3 separate regions of the Homo sapiens genome follow, and all the other regions are linked to region 1. The links come from fine-mapping of genetic effects on gene expression. A gene starts in region 1. Each other region holds a variant in brackets. All regions are shown on one strand. Distances are from middle to middle.

Region 1 (6,924 bases):
ACTGTTCCTTCTGTGTGTGTGTGTGTGTGTGTGTGTGTGTGTGTGTGTGTGTGTGTGTTTGGGTGTCCTTCACTGTCTCCCTCCCCACTCCCGGCCTGCTTCTTCCTTCCCCAGCTTGGAATCCACGGTTGAGGCTGGTCAGGAACCATCAGGACCCAGCATGGGTAATGGCAGCTGCTGGTGCCCTAGCCCCCACTGGGTCCTACAGTAGCTGCTTGTTGGGGAAGGGGCCTGAAAAGGTGGGAGCAGAAGGAAGCCAGGGTCTTGGGGCCGTGGGCTGCCACAGCCACCACAGAAACACTCCAACTTCTCCCAGCCCTAGCAAACCAGTGGAGGTGTGTGCTGGTGCTTTGTTCCTGGGGTGGCTTGGGGCCGCCTGGCTGCCTCTCCCGAGCCTGGCCCTCACCCAGGAGGCCACACCAGCCTCGAGTGCCCACCTCCGTCCAGAGCCCCAGCTCCCCACTCCTGGGGGCTGAGCCAAGAACCCTGTGGCTGTCCCACCGTCGCCTCCCAGAGGCTTGTCCGGCGCAACAGGACAAGGAAGGACTAAGGCTTAGAGTCGGCCCGATCAGGTGACGCCTGAGCTGTCACCGCTGTCACCACTTACACACAGGGTGTGTGGACAAAGTGGTGCGTGCCAGGGAGGGCTAAGTGACCGAGGGCAGGCACGTGGCAGGCTCCTGAAGGTGGAGGTGGCGCTGACAATGGCCACCAGTGAGCAGGGCCCTGTGTGTGCTGGGGCTGACTCCAACCCCTTGGCGCTGCCACGCAGGGGCTTGGGAGGGCCCCTCCCCAGGCACATGGGAGGTGGCCCCTCCCTGACCACGGAGCCATCGTGTCTGCAGAGGCCCACCCTGCGCCCTGTGCTGCTGCCTGGGGCCAGAAGAATAAGTCGATGTGAAATGGCTTTTTCTTTCCTCACCCCCCTTTGGGAGTCAGGCCCGTTAGGAATGGAAGGGGCTGTGCTCCTGGTCCCCTGGGGGAGTGAGCTTCCCGGACTCTTGGGGGGATCTGGTAAGGTGGATGGTGGGAGGCTCGAGGGTGTCCAGAGCCTGATGGGAGGGGGTGGCAGTGGAGGGTCATCCCTCCAGGGTCTCCCTTCTGGATGTGGACACCACATGTCAGGCCTGTCACCTGGCCTTGTCACACTCCATCTCTGGGTCCCCTTCATAGGTTTTCTCGACAGGAGAATCAGGTCCCTGGATAGGAGGAGACGCCCCTCTGTGCAGTGTGGTGGGGATGTACCCCCAATCCAGCCAGGACCCACTGCAGGGGCCCAGCAGGGGCAGGCACGAGTGTGAGAGCAACATGACCCCAGCAGCTCTCGCTGTGTGCCAGGCACATGGACACGCACCACACAAACCCCACCGTGTGCCAGGCACACGGACAAGCACCGCACAAACCCCACTGTGAGCCACTAGGCACATGGACAAGCACTGCACAAACCCCACTGTGTGCCAGGCACATGGACAAGCACCGCAGAAACCCCACGCCTCAGTGACCCTCCACACCTTGCGGGACGGGCAGCCCTCAGGTGACAGAACCGAGGCTCAGAGAGGGAAAGCAACTTGTGCCAGGTCACACAGCCTCATAGCCCAGCTCGGCCTAACAAAGCCAGAGCCCTCGGGGGTGCAGGTTTCCCCACAAGTTCTGATATAATGTTGGGGCTCTCCCGGCCCAGGGACACAAGCTCCCAGCTCTCTGCATCAAGGAAGGAGACCAGGAGAAGCTCCCCCAGCAATGACAGCTACGAGGCTGCAAATCTCTCCCTCCCTCCACCATTTGTGCAATGTCTTTTGTCCCCACTTCTCTTCACCAGCCTCCCACCACTAACCCAGGGGACCCACAAGGGGCTCACAGTGTTGGTGTGGACCCTCTGTGGGCCTCCTGATGGCAGCAGCGCCTGGGGAAAGAGGGCTGAGCTGAGGCCTGGCACAGGCAGGGCCCCCAGCAGCCCCTGCCCTTACAATGGGATGCTGGCTCAGGTGCCCGAAGCCCAAAGGAGGTGGCCCGGAAGGTTGGAGCTTCAATCGAAGGCCTGTTCTCTGCCCGCAGCCAGGCCCAGGGCTGTGGCAAAGGAGGGTGGTGCCCCAGCCAACACCACTGTCCCTGCCGGCCAGCAGCCACGGCCCCGGCTGGAAGGGAGCAAGGCTCTGCCTGGCTTCTGTGGTCTTTGGGGGAGGGCACGTGGGCCCAGCAGGCAGCTTGCGCTGCGCTCAGGGCACAGATGGTTCTCATTCCCGTTGCCTCCCTTACACAGGAAAAACAAACCAGCCCGGGGCCAACAGACCCCTTTTTAACCTCGTGTTTATTTTCCTTCCCATGCTTGAAAACGCTGACTGTCCTGTGGGCGGCAGCTGCTGAGGGTCTTGCCAGGACGGCACTTTCCTGACCTCAGGGCAGCTCTCCCAGGGAGGGGCTGGGGTGCACGGAGGGGCCCCGAAGGAATGCAGCCCATTTCCTGCTCCTGGACTTCTCCGAGTCATACCCGGGGTCGCAGCTGCCTTTCAAGGGCCTGGAGTCTCCTGACACCACCGGAAGGCCCAGGATGCTGTCGGGGGCAGGACAGAACCCGGGGAGGCCGGCTGTGGGCCTCGCTGGCTGCGGAGAACCCCCCAAGCCATCGGGAGCTGAGGGTGGGTGGAGGGGAAGCCACGTCACACCACATAGGCCCACAGGGCTCCAAGAATTCAGAGGAGGAGGAGGAGGCGGTAGGGGCTGGGGTCCCGGGACCCCGGGTGGGCACAGCCTACTGTGCCACCTGCATCCTCCCTAAGCCTGCACAGTGCCCAGGAGGAAGGAAGGGGCAGGCTGCATCCCCATTCCGGGGGAGCTTGGGAGGGGAATGTGGCCACCCAGGGTCTCAGAGGTGGGGGGCTTACCAACCGTCCCACAGGCCAAGCAGAGCCTGTATTTGTCATCGGTGCCCCAGGTTTCTCTAAAGCAGGCAGACAGCATCCCCACGGCCTGCGCCCCATGGCCCAAGGCAGAAGTTTGGAGAAGGGGGCAAAGCCACGTTGGGGCTGCACAGAAGAGGAGGGTAGGACCCCCGAGGCGTAGGGCGCCCACCAAGAAAGGCAAGGAGGCCTCAGCAGCCCCTCCCCACGTGGGTGAGGCTGCGGGGCTCACCAGGCGGCCTGTGGATGAAAGGAGCCCAGAGGCCAGTGTGGCTGCACTGTGACCCAGGGACCCCCGCGGGCCCTCAGAAGTCCCCAGGGGACCAGCAGCAAGGCCAGGCCCAGGCCCTCTCCCCTGCATTCCCTGGGGTGGGGTGGGCTGGGGCCCACACCCCCTCCCCCCTCCCCCCTCCCCGGGGACTGCCCGCCTCACGGCGCCCCTCCCCCCGCGTCCGCCCCGCCCCCCGCAGAGGGAGGCACGCGGCGGTGGCCGCCCGGTCCGCGCCCCCTCCCCGCGCGGGCGGCGGTGACATCACGGCCACGGCGGCGGGAGGGGCGGCGGCGCCCCGCGCACATCACTTCCTCGGCGCCTCCCCGGGGGAGGACGGGCGAACGAGGCGCGGACGGACAGGCGGACAGCAGGGCGGACAGCAGGGAGGACAGCAGGGCGGGCAGGGGGCGGACGGCCACGGCGCGGGGGGCGCTCCCGGCTCCCGCTCCCGCGTCCCCGACCCATGGCGGGCCCGGCCCCGCCCGCGGCCGACGAGCTCCCGGGCCCGGCCGCCAGGCGCCTCTACTCCAGGTAGGACGGGCCGGGGCCGGGGCCGGGGCCGGGGCTGGGACCGGACCGGGCCGGGTCGGGACGCGGGGGAGGCTGCAGTTGGGAACAAAGGCAGCTCTCGCGGGCGCGCAGCGTGGCTGAGGACGCGCCCCTCCCTCCAGGCCGAGCCCAGCCCGGCGTGTGCCCGCGTGGGCGTCCCCTGAAGCCCTCTTTCCCCCAAGCCAAGGGGAAGGGGGTGGGGGGCCGGGGGGCTGGAGGCGGGGTGGGCAGCTTCTCCAGCCTCACTCCCCTGGCACCTGGCAGGGGCACCGTGGGGTGCTTCCCTCCCAAGCCTGGCCCTGCCATGCCCGGGGCACTCAGGGGCATCATGGCCAAAGAGACCTGGCTGCTCTGGATGGGGCTCTGCCCCTCACCAGCCCTCCACGAGCCCAGTGGGATCCAGCTGGGTTGGAAGGGAGCCAGCCAGGTGGGTGTGTACCTGCCTGAAAAGGCATCTACTCTCCGGGCACATTCCTGGGTGATCCCAGTGACTGGGCTCTGTGCCCCACGCCTTTGGGGATGACAGGGTGGCCCTGCCCCAGGTGGCATGCCTGCCTGGTGACTCCCAATGTCCCCCCAGGGGCTGCCCTGGGCCCAGCCGGGCAGGTGCCTGGAGCCCCAAGCAAGGCTGGGTGGTACCAGGCCTCAGGCAGAGCCACACGAGCGTGAGGTCCAGGCAGGGGCTTGCGAATGGGTGGCAGCCGTCAGAGGCAGGCCTGGCTCCCCAGAGCGAGGGACACTATTGTCCTCTGGACATCCCTAAAACCTGGTGACCTCCCTGATAGGGGTCCCAGCAGCTGATCCCGGGGGGCGCCTAGCCTGGCCCCCAAGGATTCTCTGGCCCCAGCCAAGCAGCAAGCCTCTGCCTGGGGCACCCGAAATGAGGTACTGGTGGCGGCACGGCGGACAGAGGCCTTGCTGCCTCCGGTCTGCTCTCTGCTTTGGTCCCAGACACAGCCCCATTGTGCCGTCCTGGATGGAGCGCTGAGCCCCTAGCCTGGCTCCTGGGCCCCACGCAGGGGAGGGGCGTGAGGGTGATTTTGCTGGCAGCTGCTGCCAGGGGCCTGCCCTAAAGGATTTTCAAGGGTTTCCTCCGCTGATCTGATCGGCTGTGCAGGGCCGCATGTGCTCCAGGGCGGCCGTGCTGTGAGGGGGATGGATAGCAGCCCTGGCTGGAGTGAGTTTGAGTGTGAGTGTGTGGAGCTGTGAGAGAGTGTGTGTGTGGAGCTGTGAGAGACGGGTGTCCAAGACCTTAGCCTTGGGTGAGGCCTGCACAGCTGACCATAGAGTTGGGCATTCTCCAGGCTACAGCTAGAAGCCTGGGGTCCCCTGGGGACACGCCAGGCAGGAGCCAGCCCCTGGCAGGGGCAGTGCTCAGGGGGACCACTCAGAGAGACCCCAGACCCAGCCTTGCATCCCCCTAAGCAGGGAGTCCAGTTGAGCTCCAGGGTGGAGTCAGGCCCAGACTTGGGGGAAGCGCGCCAAGCCCTCCAGCAGGGCCTGTGACGAGGTCCCCCCGGGAGTCTGCACCCCACCGTGTAGCCACAGCCCGGTTTGGGCAGGCGGTTCCTGGTCGGAGCTGGCTTCAGAGCATGGATGCCTAGACGTGTTCTGGGCCAGTGGAAGCTGCGGGCCAGACGGGAGGGCCCTTTGCTGTCATGCTGGGGCTGGAGAGCAAGACACGGAAAAGTCTCCTGTCTCCTGAAACCCGAGTGCTGGGGGCGGCCCACCTGCTGGCGTGGGCGGTGGGCATGTGGATGCCCTGGAGGTGGGCGGAATCCGTGTGGGCACTCCTCACGTGGCTGTACTGGGGTCCCTCAATGTGGATGGGGCTCCAGGTTGGCCCAAGGTCTCCTCTGCCCCGTCTACTGCCTTCCCACACTGACATTCCTTCCTGGAGAGAGGAGTTTCAGCTTTTAAAATGGGGAACTGTGCCTGGAAAACACACTGACAGCGAGGCCCATGAATGTGCCCATGAGCCCACTGGGTACCCTGAGGGGCCCTGGGTGCTGGGTCGGTGGGGACGGGCCCCTGGGTTCTGGGTCGGTGGGGACGGGGCCCTGGGTGCTGGGTCGGTGGGGACGGGCCCCTGGGTGCTGGGTCGGTGGGGACGGGGCCCTGGGTGCTGGGTCGGTGGGGACGGGCCCCTGGGTGCTGGGTCGGTGGGGACGGGCCCTTGGGTTCTGGGTCAGTGGGGATGGGCCCTGGGTGCTGGGTCGGTGGGGACAGGGCCCTGGGTGCTACAGTTAATGCTCAGAATTCTGGCCCACTTGCCAGGGGCTCCCTGGCCCAGAGCAGGGCTTTGGGGTGAAGAGGCCTGGCGGGGACAGGCCAGTGGCTGAGAAGGCCCCGGAAAGTGGGGAAACCCTGGGTGGTCGTCTCCTGGCCTCCCACCTGCTTTAAGGCCAGCTGAGTGCTCCCCGGGGCTGGGGCCGGGAAGGGGCAGCAGAGCCACCCACCTTGGGGTGACCCTGTTAGAGATGCCCTCCAAGCAGCAGTCACCAGCTCCCAGACAGGACGTCCTCAGGTGTGGACTGGGCCCCCCGCAACCTCTCTGGCCACATGGCCATGCTACCCCCTACCTTCACTCCATCCTTCCTCCCTCCCCTGTCCCCGTCCTGGGCACCATCCCTGGTGGGTCGCTGGGCAGCGACGGGCCCTAGGAATTCCTGGCAAGCCTGACCCCAGGTGCTTCCTACAGCTGGGTGACCTTCAGTCCCCTCTCCAGTGATTCCAGCTCCCGCTGTGCTCCCAGCCCGGTCCTGCGCCTCACTCTCTCCCCTCCCCTGGCCACTGAAGGGGAGTCGGTGTGGTTTTCCCTGGGGGTGTCTGGCTGGGGGATGGGGCAGATAGAGCCAGCTGTGAGCAGAGTCTCTTCAGCATCTGCTCAGGGGCCAGCATGTAGGTGACGGCCTTGGGGAGGGGCAGGTGCCAATTCTGTTAGCAGGGCTGGGACTGAGGGACACGGCTTTCGGGTGGCCGGAGGTAGTAGGAGTTGCAGTGCTGGCTTGGGAACTGGCCTTGGTGATGGCACCCCAGCCACCACGGAGGGTCTGAGGGTTCAGTCTGTTGACGAGGACTGGGCAAGGGAGAGGCATTCTAGGTCCTGCCCCGCCTTTGGCCAAGCTGTCCTGAAGGTGGACAAATGGTCTGGCCTGAGTAGGACCCCTGAGCCCACAAGGCCTCAAGGTAAGGAGGAGAGAGCCC
Region 2 (6,924 bases), 24 kb after region 1:
GAGGACATTCCCCACTTCCCGGATTCCATCCCATTTTTTCCGTTCGCCAACTGATTTCTGATCTGCCAGGTCTGTCGTGCCCTGGATACAGGCTCCTGAGAGTGCTCAGGGAGCGGCTGGGCTGAGGTAGGGCCCACTCTCCCAAACTCCCAAATCCTTTCGGGCCCCGCAGGGCTGAGCGACACCCGTCTCTGCCAGGGCTGTGTTGGGACAGGGCTGAGTGACACCCGTCTCTGCCAGGGCCGTGTTGGGACTGAGGCTTGAAGGTGGGCCTGGCTGTGGGGCTTCCCAGGGGCCCGGGACAGGCACTGGTGGCTCCGCTGAGTCTGCAGCTGGCCAGTGTTGGGTCAGGCAGCTGTGCCCCACCACCCCACTGCGGCTAGAGGGGATGGGGGTCCCTTGGGTGGAGACACGGCCAGTAGGGTGAGCCCCGGGCCAGGAGGGATGGACAGGAGCCCGGGGAAGGTCCCACGGCAGAGCTGGTCTGGGGGATTCATCTGAGGCCTTTGCGTCCCCGACCCTGGCCTGGGCTGCCCGCAGTGAGCTGGGAGTGGACCCACAGGCCCGCCCCACCTGCCTCCGGGGCACAGCATGATGCACCCTCAGGAGGGGGGATTGGGTGGCCTCACAGAGGTGACCAGGGGCCACAGGAAGGGTGATCCAGGCAGAGGGAACAGCAGGACTGACGGGGGAGGCCCTGTGTGCGGCAGGGGAGAGGCCTGTCCAGAGCCGGGCCCTTCCAGCACAGGGAGCCAAAGCCAGACCCCACCTGGCCCCAGCCAGGACGCGCTCTGTCTCGACACCTGTCCCCTTTGACTCTGACAGTACAGTCGGGGAGACGCAGAGGACACTCAGACATGGCGCTCGCCTCCACAAGGGGGGCTGGCTGTCAGAAAGCCATGGCCGGGCTGGTCCTTGGCCCCCCAGAGACTCTGGCCTGGCCCACCCAATGCGAGGTGCCAGGGTGGTGCTGGGCTGACCGGGTCCCTCTGTCTTCAGGGGCCAGACCCAAGAGGACGCAGAGGCTGAGCGCGGAGACCTGGGACCTGCTGAGACTCCCCCTGGAGCGGGTGAGCCAGGGACACGGGACCGATGTCAGCACAGCCGCTGCCAGAGCATGGGCAGCGGGGTTAATGAGGCAGAGCCACCGCCACCCACCTCAGCCCCTGTCTGCTGGGAGATAAATGTGCCCTCCTCGGCCTGATGCCCTGCATGGCCCATCTGCCACCTGCTCACCCATGTCCCTCAGCGTCTGGCCAGCTGTGCCCCAGGCGAGGCATGGTCCTCACACATTTCAGGCCCCCATACTCCACCCAGCTGCTATGCCACCACACCCTCGGGAGCCCACAGACAGGGGCACCCACTCCTGCCTGCTCCCTGCCCTCTCGGACTCTGACCCAAAGTGGGCACAGCTGCTGCAGGTGCAGACACTGGCTGGGGTTCAGCAGACCCACACAGACAGATTCGGGGGCTGCCTGGCGTAGGGCCCTGGGCTGGCCCTGTGCCTGTCGGCAGTGGGTGCTGTGTGGCCTGGGCCAGCAGCCTGATCTCTCTGAGCCTCTGGTTCCTCTGGTGTGGCCTGTGTTCAGTTGTGGATGGCCGTCAGGGTTCTGCTGTGGGGACGAGACCCAAGGACGCCCACAGTCACTGTCATTGCTGGTATAAGCCGGCTGACATTTGCGGGGGCCACTGGCCCTCAAACACCCCACCCTGCCTCTCCCGGCCCCAGCCAAGGGCCCACAGCCCCAGTCCTCTCCTCCTCTCTGGGTACTGGGCACCTACGGCGTGCATCCATGAAATGGAGGCGGCCTGGCCTTCCCTTCAGGGTCCTGGGATGGGGACATTGGTTCACAATTGCCCAGGCCACGCACAGCCTTACCCCTCCCCAGGAGCAGAATGGAGACAGCCACCATTCAGGGGACTGGCGGGGGCCCAGCAGGGACTCGCTACCCCTCCCCGTGAGGAGCAGGAAGTACCAGGAAGGCCCGGACGCTGAGAGGAGGCCCCGGGAGGGCAGCCACTCCCCGCTGGACAGCGCCGACGTCCGGGTGCACGTGCCACGCACGGTAGGCGTCTTTGACGGCAGATCCAGGCCGAGAGGGAGGAGAGCTTGGCAACTGCGCCCCAACTCCACTGCCAGCCAACGGGGCCAGGTCAGGCCCGGGCACTCCGGGGAGGCAGGGGTCCCTCCCCGGTGCACCTGGTGCAGTGCTGTCCTGGGACCCCGGTGGGGGCTCTGGGCAGGGCTCAGTGTTTAGCATTGTGGTCGCACCTGGCCTCAGAGGCCCCGGCCACCGAGGAGCCTCCTGGGGACTCTAGGCTGGGCTCTTCTGCATGGAACGCCCCGCCTCTCTTTGGGCCTCAGTTTCCATCTTGTTCACCAGTTGGGGGCTGGCTCTTCCCAGCCTTCAGGTGGCCTCTCTCTCTGACTCCAGCCCCCACCCTCCTTTGTTGGGACCCTCCAGACCCATCCGCTAGTCACAGGAGCGTGTCCCTGAAAGGAACTGGCTGCCTTCACTGTGAGAGCCGGGCTGCACAGATCCCCTGATGGGGTGCCCCTTCCTGAGGTGGCTCTTGGAGGCTCTGGCCAGTGAGGTCAAGCCTGTGTATCCTACCAGGGCCCTGGAGGGGTGGACGAGGCCAACACAGTCCCTGGGGGAATCCTGGGATCTCTGACACCTGGCGGGGGTCCCTGAGCAGAGGGGCCTGAGGGGCACCCAAGGGGTGGGTGGGAAGCCCCTAAGCCACACCCATGGTCAGGCCCTGGTGTGGAAGCACCTGCAGCTCCAGCTGGGCCAAGGTACTGGGGCCTCTCCTTGTGGGTGCAGGGGCCGGGGCAGGACCGATGGTGAGTGGGGTCATGGAGGGGATGCAGCTGGGTGGCCTGTGCATGGCTGCAGAGCCCCTGGTGAGGGGACAGCAAGGGGCTAGGTCCACTCAGGGTTCCTCCTGGTCAGGGGCTGGGAGGCCCCACCCTGCCCTACCCCACCTGGGCTCAAGGTCACGAGTGGAGCAGAGGGTCACAGCCCAGCAAGCAGCAGCAGCGCAGCCTGGGCGCCACCCGGGTCCTCAGGGCTAGCCAGGAGCCCCCCGCGTTGCTGTGGCACACAGAGGTGGCGGGAGGGGTGGGGCAGTTGCAGTGACTGCCAAGTGTATGGGTGGACGGACGGGGGACAGACAGACTGGTGGTCAGACTCGGGGTTGGTGGGGGGACAGGTGACAGGCCGGGCCTGTGCCTGGCAGGTGTCAGCTGTGCCAGGGCCACCCCAGCCACGGGAGAGCTGGTTGGTGTTCAGGGGCACCGATGGGCCGAGTCCGGGTTCGGAGGTCAGCCTGGAGCTCCCCCGAGCAGGACGGCTGGGTCCAAACCACTAGAAATAGTCTGAAATTGTTCTTCCGTGGGCACCAACCTGCAGAGGGGTGTGGGTGCTGGGCTGGGATTCGCAGCCCCCCGAGGCTGCCCAAGCCCATCCTTCCCACCAGCAGGGCACAGCCTACC[T/C]TCCCCTCATTCAGCCCCAGCACTGCCCAACCATCTGGGCTAGGTCCATCCGTCCACTGATGGGAGAGGTGTGGAGGGAAGGGCACCCAGGGAGCACCTGGTCAGGCCTTCCCGGGGGTCCCGGTGATCCCCCAGCCTCCCTGGGCCTGGAGGGAGGAGCAGGACTGGGACCCAGACACCTGCCCTGTCCACAGCTGGCCCTGCCCTGTCCACAGCTGGGTCTGCCCTGTCCACAGCTGGCTCTGCCCATCACATCTGGGCCGCCAAGGAAGGAGTGGGAGGCTGGCAGCATGTGTGGGACAGACCAGTCAGCCGGCCTCAGGGGCTGATGGCTTTCTAGAAAGCACAGCCTCTGAGGGCTTCCAGGCTTCACGTCACCCCAACAAACTGCCCTGGGTCTGGGCCAGCAGGGCAAGGGGACACAGTTCCAAGTGTCCAGCTGCCTGGCCCAGCACTCTGGAGGCCTTGGCCAGGGCCCCAGGGAGCCCCCACCTGCTGCGGGCCCTGCTCCCCTGGCCCCTGCAACCACCGCGGGGCAGGACGCCTGGGACAGCCAAGATCCTGGCCCCAGACAAACGGGGTTCCCAGGGTCTGTGAGGACGTGGCAGGGCCTCTTGGCTTTCTGCTGACCTGAACCCCACTGGCCTTACCGAGGTCAGAACCTTGGGTACCTCCGAGTAAGGACCGTCTGCACCCTGGTGGCAGCCTGTATGGGGACTGCAGCGAGGGTGGGTGGGGGATACATCCCTGGGGCGTCAGTGGCCGGGTGGGCCCCCTTCCCCCTCTGCTGGGGTCCTCAGGGAAGGGCTTTCAGCTCTCAGTTGGGGTCCTCATCTGCAAAGTGCAGCTGATACCAATACTGCGCCGTTGCTGTTGGTGACACCAATACTGCGCCGTTGCTGTTGGTGACACCAATGCTGCGCCGTTGCTGTTGGTGACACCAATGCTGCGCCGTTGCTGTTGGTGACACCAATGCTGCGCCGTTGCTGTTGGTGACACCGATGCTGCGCCGTTGCTGTTGGTGACACCGATGCTGCGCCGTTGCTGTTGGTGACACCGATGCTGCGCCGTTGCTGTTGGTGACACCGATGCTGCGCCGTTGCTGTTGGTGACACCGATGCTGCGCCGTTGCTGTTGGTGACCAACCAGCCCCTGCCCCTCCCCACCCTGTGCCCAGACAGTGCAGGGGCCTTGCAGCCAGCACATTCGGGGCTTTGGGATCTGAGGCGGTGTGGCTGGGTGTGGTCTGGGGGTCCAGAGAACTCATTCTGGGGTGGAGGGTAGGGGACAGGGCAGGGTTGGCCTCAGAGGCTGGAGACAGTGTAGGTCCAACCAGGAATGAGACAGAGAGGCAGCAACCAGAGGCTTGAGTTGAGCTGGCCGGGAGGCCCTTGAGCCAGGGCACTGGGGAGCCACCGAGGGCTGTGGGACAGGAAGGGCCGTCCCGGACAGAGGAGTCCAGATGAGGACAGCAACCCGCCCAGGTCCTCTGCGCCTGCCTCCGTAGTCAGGCTGAATAAAGAGGTGGCTTTCCCCACCTGGCCCAGCTCTGGAGGGAGGCCCAGGGGCCCAGGTGTCAGCGGGAAAAGGGCTCTTCGGCAGGCTGTCTGCCCACACAGCCCTCCAGTGTGCCCGCCCACAGGCACGGGGAGGGGGAGGTTCACTGCTGCACTTGCTGGGGGAGTGTTTACGGAGTGCGCCTGTGTGTGAGTGCGAGCCCACGTGCGTGTGTGTGAGCCTGTGTGTGTGCACGCACTCAAGTGAGCAGGGGCGGGCGCTAGGAGGGCCGAGCCCTTGCCCAGGGTCCTATTTAAGCCTCAGGCATCCCAGCATTGAGGCAGCACTTGGCACTTTGGGCAGGGCGGTGGTGGCCCTGGGCACCTTGTGTCCTGCCTGCGCTCTGTGTGGCCAAGCACCCAGCGTGGCTCCCTGCTGCTGTGGAGACAGCCTGTGATCCGCGTGAGTCTGGGGTCCCTGGGGTCCTAACAGGTGGAGGCTGAGGGAGCACACGGGCCTCTGTGAAGCCGGGTGGGGTGGTCTTGGGCCGGGTGCATTCCCCTCCTCCGCAGGAGAAACTGGGCTTGTGCCAAAGCAAGAGAGACTAGAGTCAGACTGCAGGAGGGACTCTGAGGCCTCCGGGAAGGAGGGAGCCAGGGCTTGGGGCAAGGGAGAGGTTAGAGCAGGGAGGCGGAACCCCGAGTCCCACTGGATATGTTCTACTGGGACATAAATGCAGGGGAAGGTGGCCTTGGGGCCCAGGGTCCTGCTTCTGAGGGGCTCCAGGAGCCCCAAACTATCCAGAGCCTTTCCCCGTACCAGGCACTGAGCCACGGTTTTGCACCTGCAGTCGTGGGCCCCTGCCCCCATGTGAGGGAGGCATCAGCCCCTCAACAGCTGGCCCCAGCCTCAGGGAAGGGGAGGGCTGCCCGACATAGGACCCTGAGAGGGGCTCTGCCATGGGGCCTGGGACATGGCCCCTGACGGGTCCTGCCTTTCCCAGGAGGGACCTTGCTCAGTCCACCTGGGCCCCGGGTCACCTGGGGGAGTCCAGATTGGGCCAGAGGCAGAGGCCCCCCGCGGCTGTGCCCTAGGTCATCATAGCCCAGGAGCCAGTTCCTTTTAGACCAGGAGGCCACATCCTCCTGGGGAGGTACCTGTGTGGCCCCAACTGGCACTCAGGCTGGCAACCCCAGTGCCACCCTCTGCCTGGACCTGCAGCTCCCAGAGCCCTGGCCCAAGTGGATGTGGCCCTCCCCACAGACTGGGCCAATTCTCCCCTCCCTCCTGGCTGGGGAATCCGGGGGAGTGGGGGTGTTGCCTTAGGCCTGAGCCAGGCTGCAGGAGGAGAGCCCTGCGGGGAGAAGGGGGTGCTAGAACTCTCCCTCCTCAGGTCTGCCTCAGGGACAGGAGGTACCTCAGGCTTCCGTGACAGCTGGGGACTGACTCCAGGGGCCAGAGCCAGGTGGGGTCTCTCCTAAAACAGGGCTGTCCACAGGGCCCTCGGCTCAGCTCAAGGGTCTGAATCCCAGCTCTTTTTTGCTCCAGCATGACCTTGGGTAGGTCACACATGTCTCTAGGCCCCACTCTCCTGTGCCCTGGGCCGAGTCCAGCAGAAAACTGGAAGCAGGACGGGAGCCCTAGTCCTGGGCTGTGGGGGTCAGGTGTCGGGAATTCCAGTTGTCTGTCAGACAGCTGTCCGTCTCCTGGGCTGTGGGGGTCAGGTATTGGGAATTCCAGGCAGCATCGGGGACCCGGGAGGTGCCATCTCCACCAACATTGCGTCTCTTGTTAACTCGTTCAGCTGTGAGCCCAGCATTTGCAGACCTGGAAGAGGCCACCAGCCGTGAGATGGACAGGCTGGGGCCGGGCAGGGGCTGCCAGCGCCGGTCGGGAGGTGGACGGGGCTTGGAACCATCACAAACACC
Region 3 (5,000 bases), 54 kb after region 1:
GTCTTCGGCTCCCTTTGTGGCTGGCACTCTTTGAGGCTTCTTGAGCCGGCACGTTTGGGAAGAGGTGGCCTGTGGGGAGGAAAGACCCACACTTGATAAGCCCCAGGCATCTGGCCCAGGGACAGCCCCTCGCTGCCATCCCCTCATCAGGAGGGACCATGTGGGGAGCCTGGGGTCTTGAGCCAAGAGAGGGTCAAGCGGCACATCCTGGGTCTCCCAAGTCACAGTGGCTACCCCAGATGGCAATGCTCCGGCCAAAGCCAGGGCAGTGGGCACTCTGGGAAACCCAGCCCATTTAATGCTGGCTGAGATCAGCCGGCAGCCCAGCTTGCCGGTGTTGGGCATGGGCGGACGCTCGCTCCAGACGACCCCTGCCTCTGGGCCCCATGCTGGGGAAGCCTTAGGGCTGCAAGGGGAGCCCAGGGAGCTCCAAGCTGGCCCAGCCGGACTCTCATCCCTGTGGTGGGACTCGAGGGAGCTCTGTCACCAGGGGCCACAGGCTGTGCTGCTTGGGGGCTGTGGGTGAAAGCCAGGGCCAGGTTAGGCCTCTTCCCCGCCAGGGCCAGGTTAGGTCTCTTCCCCACCAGGGCAGAGAAGCAGAGTTACCTGGGGTGCTCTGGGCACTTGAGGATGCCTGGAAATGAAAGAGAGGAGAGTCAGCAGCTCAGGTGTCCTCTGCTGGCTTGGACCACCTCTCCTAGCATCTGGACTATCCCCTGCCACTCCCTGAAATGGGACGAGGCCCCAAGGGCTGGTGCTGGCCTCCCACACGCCTCTGTAGGAACTCCGGGGCCACAGAAGGAGCCAAGCATGTGGCCCGATCCCATGTCCAGTGGCTACGGCACAGAGCCACCCAGAGTGGGCAGCGGTGCTGGAGACACGCTCTGCACCGGAGGCTCCTGAACCGCAGGCTGCTGCTGGCTGTGACCCCTTGGGTAGGGGACGTTGTCGTGCCCTGCACAGCAGGCAAAGGCCTGGCCTTGTTCCCCCTGCCAGTGCAGCTCCTCCTAAGGGTGCCCTCAAGAGCTCTTCTGGGGGGTTGGGGGCAGGGTGGGGTCTGCAGGGAGAGGCGGGGGGGCTGGAAGCACAGAGGCCCAGGGGTACCCCACTGCTGTTCCTGCTCCTCCAATGAGTGACACTGCTTTGTCACCCCACCCCCAGGTGACGGGGCTCAAGGGTGAGGAGGCCTCGCTGAACTTCTGTGAGTTTGGTTTCTGGAGCAGAAAGGCAAGAACCAGGCATCCCCGGCAGACAGCGCCCATGTCCATGACCGCCCAGCGGGGCTATGGGGGAAAACAGGCACGTGGGCCCCAGTGTCAGCCCCGACCTGCACCTGCCTGACTTCCCCAGGGCCTCTCAAGGCTGCGTCCCCTCAGGTGGGAAGTGCAGATGCCTCCCTGAGGGGCTGCGGTGGAGCGGGTGGGGCGGGCAGCCAGCCTCCGTGGAAACCCACTCCAACGCCGGGGCGGGCAGTGGCCATCCTCACTTCTCACCCCAAGTGCCTGCTACCTGCAGAAGATGAACTGGTGGGTCCCGAGCACCAGCCTGGGGCAGCCTGGGTGGCAGGGCCTTCCTCTCTCGGACGACCTCCAAGCAGCCGGCAGTATCGATGTGGAACAGCTGCGGGACACAGGAGGCAACCTAACCATAGCTGCTTTCGGGAGCAGCTCCGAAGCTCCAGAGGCCTAGGCAGAACCTGGGGCAGCCCTGAGGCTGGGGCGGCTACCTTGAGACCTCAGCCTTCCTGCCCTTCTGATGCAGATGCAGGGGAGGCCATGAGGCTGTGGACATCCAGGATGGCCTCCCATGAGACCCAGGCCTGCTCTCCTCCCCCGGCATCTTCCACTCATACTGGGGCCCCGGGGACCCCCTTCCCCGGACACTGTTTAGCCCGATGGGGGCAGTGCACACTGTAGCCGGCACCCCTTCCACATTCACTTGCTAACAGTGTAAGGCATGAAAAGTGCATTTTCAAGGCTAGAAAACTTTAGATAGCTAGACTTTAAGGAATGAATCTACTGCAGATTTCAAAACTTCACCAAAAACTTTTTACAAGGCAAAGGAAAACGAAGCTCTGCCCAAGTAGCTTACCTGGGTAAACAGGGTAAACACAGGGGTGCTGGCCAGGCGGGCCTGCTGCAGCTGCTCCCTGAGGCCATCCGCTGCGGGCACAGGGGGATAAGTGGAAAGCAGCCCCAGCTCCCATGGGCACAGGGGGATGGGTGGAAAGCAGCCCCAGCTCCCACGTGCCTTTCGAGGCGGCTCTGGGAGCCAGGCCAGGGTGGGAGGGGAGGCCTTGGAACCAGCACCCCACAGCCACGCCTGGACAAGGGTGGGCCCTGTGAGCCCTGTCACCACCAAGCTGCCACATGCTTGGCCCAGGAAGAGTGGTGGGGTAGGGAGGGAGGGCTGGCTGTGACTGGGTGTCCTGGAAACCTTCAGGGACGGGAAGCTGACCAGAGGTGGCGCCCACCCCAAAAAGACTCCCCTGCTGAGGCCACTTCCCCAAGTAGCCACCGTCTGCTAGGCTGGATGTACTCTTCATCCTCACCCCTCGCCCCCAGGATGCTCCCAGAGGAGCCCCAGGCCATACCTTGAGTCTGCACTACGGCGGGTCTCTGGGAAGCCTGTGTGCAGGGCACGACAACGTCCCCTACCCAAGGGGTCACAGCCAGCAGCAGCCTGCGGTTCAGGAGCCTCCGGTGCAGAGCGTGTCTCCAGCGC[C/T]GCTGCCCACTCTGGGTGGCTCTGTGCCGTAGCCACTGCACATGGGATCGGGCCACGCTGTCACCAGAGCTGACCCCTGGGGATGAGGTGGGCAGGGGTGGCTGCCTCAGCTGCTCTTTCTGTAAGGAGAAGGCAGCACCTGGGGCCCATGGCCAGGCTCGGCCCCCGGAGTGGACCCTGCCCAGTGGCCAGTGCTGCCCTCCACCCCCATCAGGGCATGATCGACGGGGAGAGGAATCACTCAGACCAGGGCGGGGCACGTGGTGGCGTGCGCGTGGGTGTCTGCAGCAGGCCTCACCTGTGTGCAGCTCCGAGCAGCCGTGTTGGCCCTGAGCACCCTCAGCACGGTCTCCACAGGCACTGTCAGCAGACGCCTCCCACCCTGATGAGAAAGCTGCCTGAGGCGAGGCACGCGGGGTGTACGGGACACATGGGGGCCCTCCCCTCGCTGCCCACACACGACTGCCTCTTCACCCAGGCTCCAAAGCGTGGCTGTGTACAGCTCTGCTCTGCCTCATGGGAACGTCCACCATGGGAAGCGTGGGTTCCCCAGGCAGGGCCTCCCAGCTAGGCCTGGCTCCTGGGACATTAACAGGGTCCCATGCCCCCCAGCCAGTTCCTCAGGCTGACAGCAGCAGCCCTTCCAGGTGACGCCCCGGCCTAGGGAGATGCTGGCTGTGCAGCAGCGAGCCCCATGCACCTAGCTCTGCCAGTAGCTTCAGTGTCCACTGTCCCTGCCAATGACTCCCAGGACAGACCAGCCTGTTCAACTCTGACTGCTCCCACAGACATGGCCAGAGATGGGCCTGACACGGTGAAGACCAGCCAAGACGAGCAGACACACCACAAGCCAGGCTTGTCCCAAGCAGGTGGACAGGCCCTTCCCAGGGAGGGCCTCCAGGTGCACAGGCTCACGAGGAGGGAGGAGGGGCTCCTCCCACTGCTGCCTCTGCCCTCCCCAACCCTGGCTTGGGGGTGAAATGTTTCAGAAATGCCTCCAGGTCCAAGTGCCCATTCAGCCATACCCCTGAAACAGTCAACAAGCCAGGAAAAATGGAGGCTTCCCCAACAGTCCCCCCGACGCACAGCTGTCCAGAGCTCAGCCAGAAGTAGCACGTTCTGATGCACACGAACCCTGGGGCCCCTGCTGCTGCACTATCCCCAAGCGTCAGCCCTGGCGAGCGAGTGCCGAAAGTGCACTTCCCGTGGTACACCCAGGGCCGGGGCCTACCTCCAGGGCCTGCTTCTCTGCGCCCGCCGGGCGAGTGTCTGCTGAGTGGGAGGCCTGGGCAGACCTCGGGACAGGGCCGTGGGCCCTGGCAGGGACCTGCACCGGACTCGTCTCCTCTCCAGGAGCCGCGGCTGTGGTGGAAGCTTCCTTGCTGCCGCCCTGGCTGGCACTGGACCCCTTGGGAGGGCTGAGGGAGGCAGCGGGGCCTCCCAGCCAGGCCCCTGCCCCTCCTCTCCATGGCTGGCTGGTGCTCTGCCTGGCAGGAACCCACAGGTCCATGTCCGGGACCATGTACTGTGGGGACAGCAGCGCTCTGTCACCCTCCCCGGCCTGCGCCTGCTCTGGCTCGTCCTCCTCGCTGCTGCTGCTGCTGCTGCTGCTGCTCCCTCCACTGCTGCCACTGCTGCTGCCGCTGCTGCTGGTAGAGCTCCACCGGACGCTGTGACGGGCCCTCCGCCGCCGCCTCCGGAGACCCTGCTTCTTCTGAGGGGAGGAAAGAGCTACTTAGAGGCCTTGGCAAGCCCGGTTCACCCATGATGGCAGCAAGCAGGCCAGCCCTTTGGGGAGAGGCCCAAGCGGGGGCGCCTCCGGGGTCAAGAGCAGCCGCTGCCGAGGCAGGGTCTCCCTTTGCCCTTGGCCACCCAGAAGAAGAAATGCCAAGACCAGAAACCGAACGCCCCCCTCCCCTCCCCTCCTCCTGCCTGCTGGACCCCCCAGTTGACCAGGCCATTGTCTGGTTTCAGATAAAGAAGGAGCGAGTGGCTCACCCCCATCATGATCTTCCACTTGCTCAGACACTGGGAGCCAGACCGATGGGGCAGCTCAGAAGCTATTTTTGCCCAGTGACCTGCAAAAGCCAAACCCCATGGAAATGCCTTCATCCAAAGATTCTTCCCCAGGACAGGCTTGCTGTTCCCCAGGAGACTCGCCGTGGCCCCATCAGAGTGGAGCCTCCTGTGCACTCTCACGCTGGGGGGTCAAGCATGTTGGGTGCCTACAATTTGGCAGCATCTGATTCTCATTGGATGCTCAGCCCCTTAGGAAA

Evidence for each region. PIP is the estimated chance that this variant, and not a neighbour inherited with it, causes the effect.
Region 2: its variant is fine-mapped to the expression of GPSM1 in aorta (GTEx, PIP above 0.99).
Region 3: its variant is fine-mapped to the expression of GPSM1 in whole blood (TOPMed, PIP above 0.99).

What each region holds. Positions count from the first base shown.
Region 1 is chr9:136,324,065-136,330,988 of GRCh38, forward strand. It overlaps GPSM1 (G protein signaling modulator 1), which reads left to right and starts at 3,475. Exons shown (of 14, transcript NM_001145638.3): 1 at 3,475-3,699. The coding sequence starts at 3,632. It overlaps DKFZP434A062 (a long non-coding RNA gene), which reads right to left and starts at 3,259. Exons shown (of 1, transcript NR_026964.3): 1 at 1-3,259. RefSeq lists enhancers at 1-478, 479-1,107, 3,637-4,166, 4,167-4,695 and a silencer at 2,309-2,603.
Region 2 is chr9:136,347,698-136,354,621 of GRCh38, forward strand. It overlaps GPSM1 (G protein signaling modulator 1), which reads left to right. Exons shown (of 14, transcript NM_001145638.3): 10 at 1,000-1,070; 11 at 1,890-2,066. Among named protein-coding and RNA genes, the nearest start is that of DNLZ, 13 kb to the right of the region's middle. RefSeq lists an enhancer at 5,020-5,314. The variant T/C (reference allele first, on the strand shown) is at 3,500.
Region 3 is chr9:136,379,231-136,384,230 of GRCh38, forward strand. It overlaps SNAPC4 (small nuclear RNA activating complex polypeptide 4), which reads right to left. Exons shown (of 24, transcript NM_003086.4): 15 at 4,723-4,802; 16 at 3,956-4,438; 17 at 3,023-3,106; 18 at 2,594-2,843; 19 at 2,092-2,162; 20 at 1,510-1,620; 21 at 607-634; 22 at 1-69. Among named protein-coding and RNA genes, the nearest start is that of CARD9, 8.1 kb to the left of the region's middle. The variant C/T (reference allele first, on the strand shown) is at 2,725.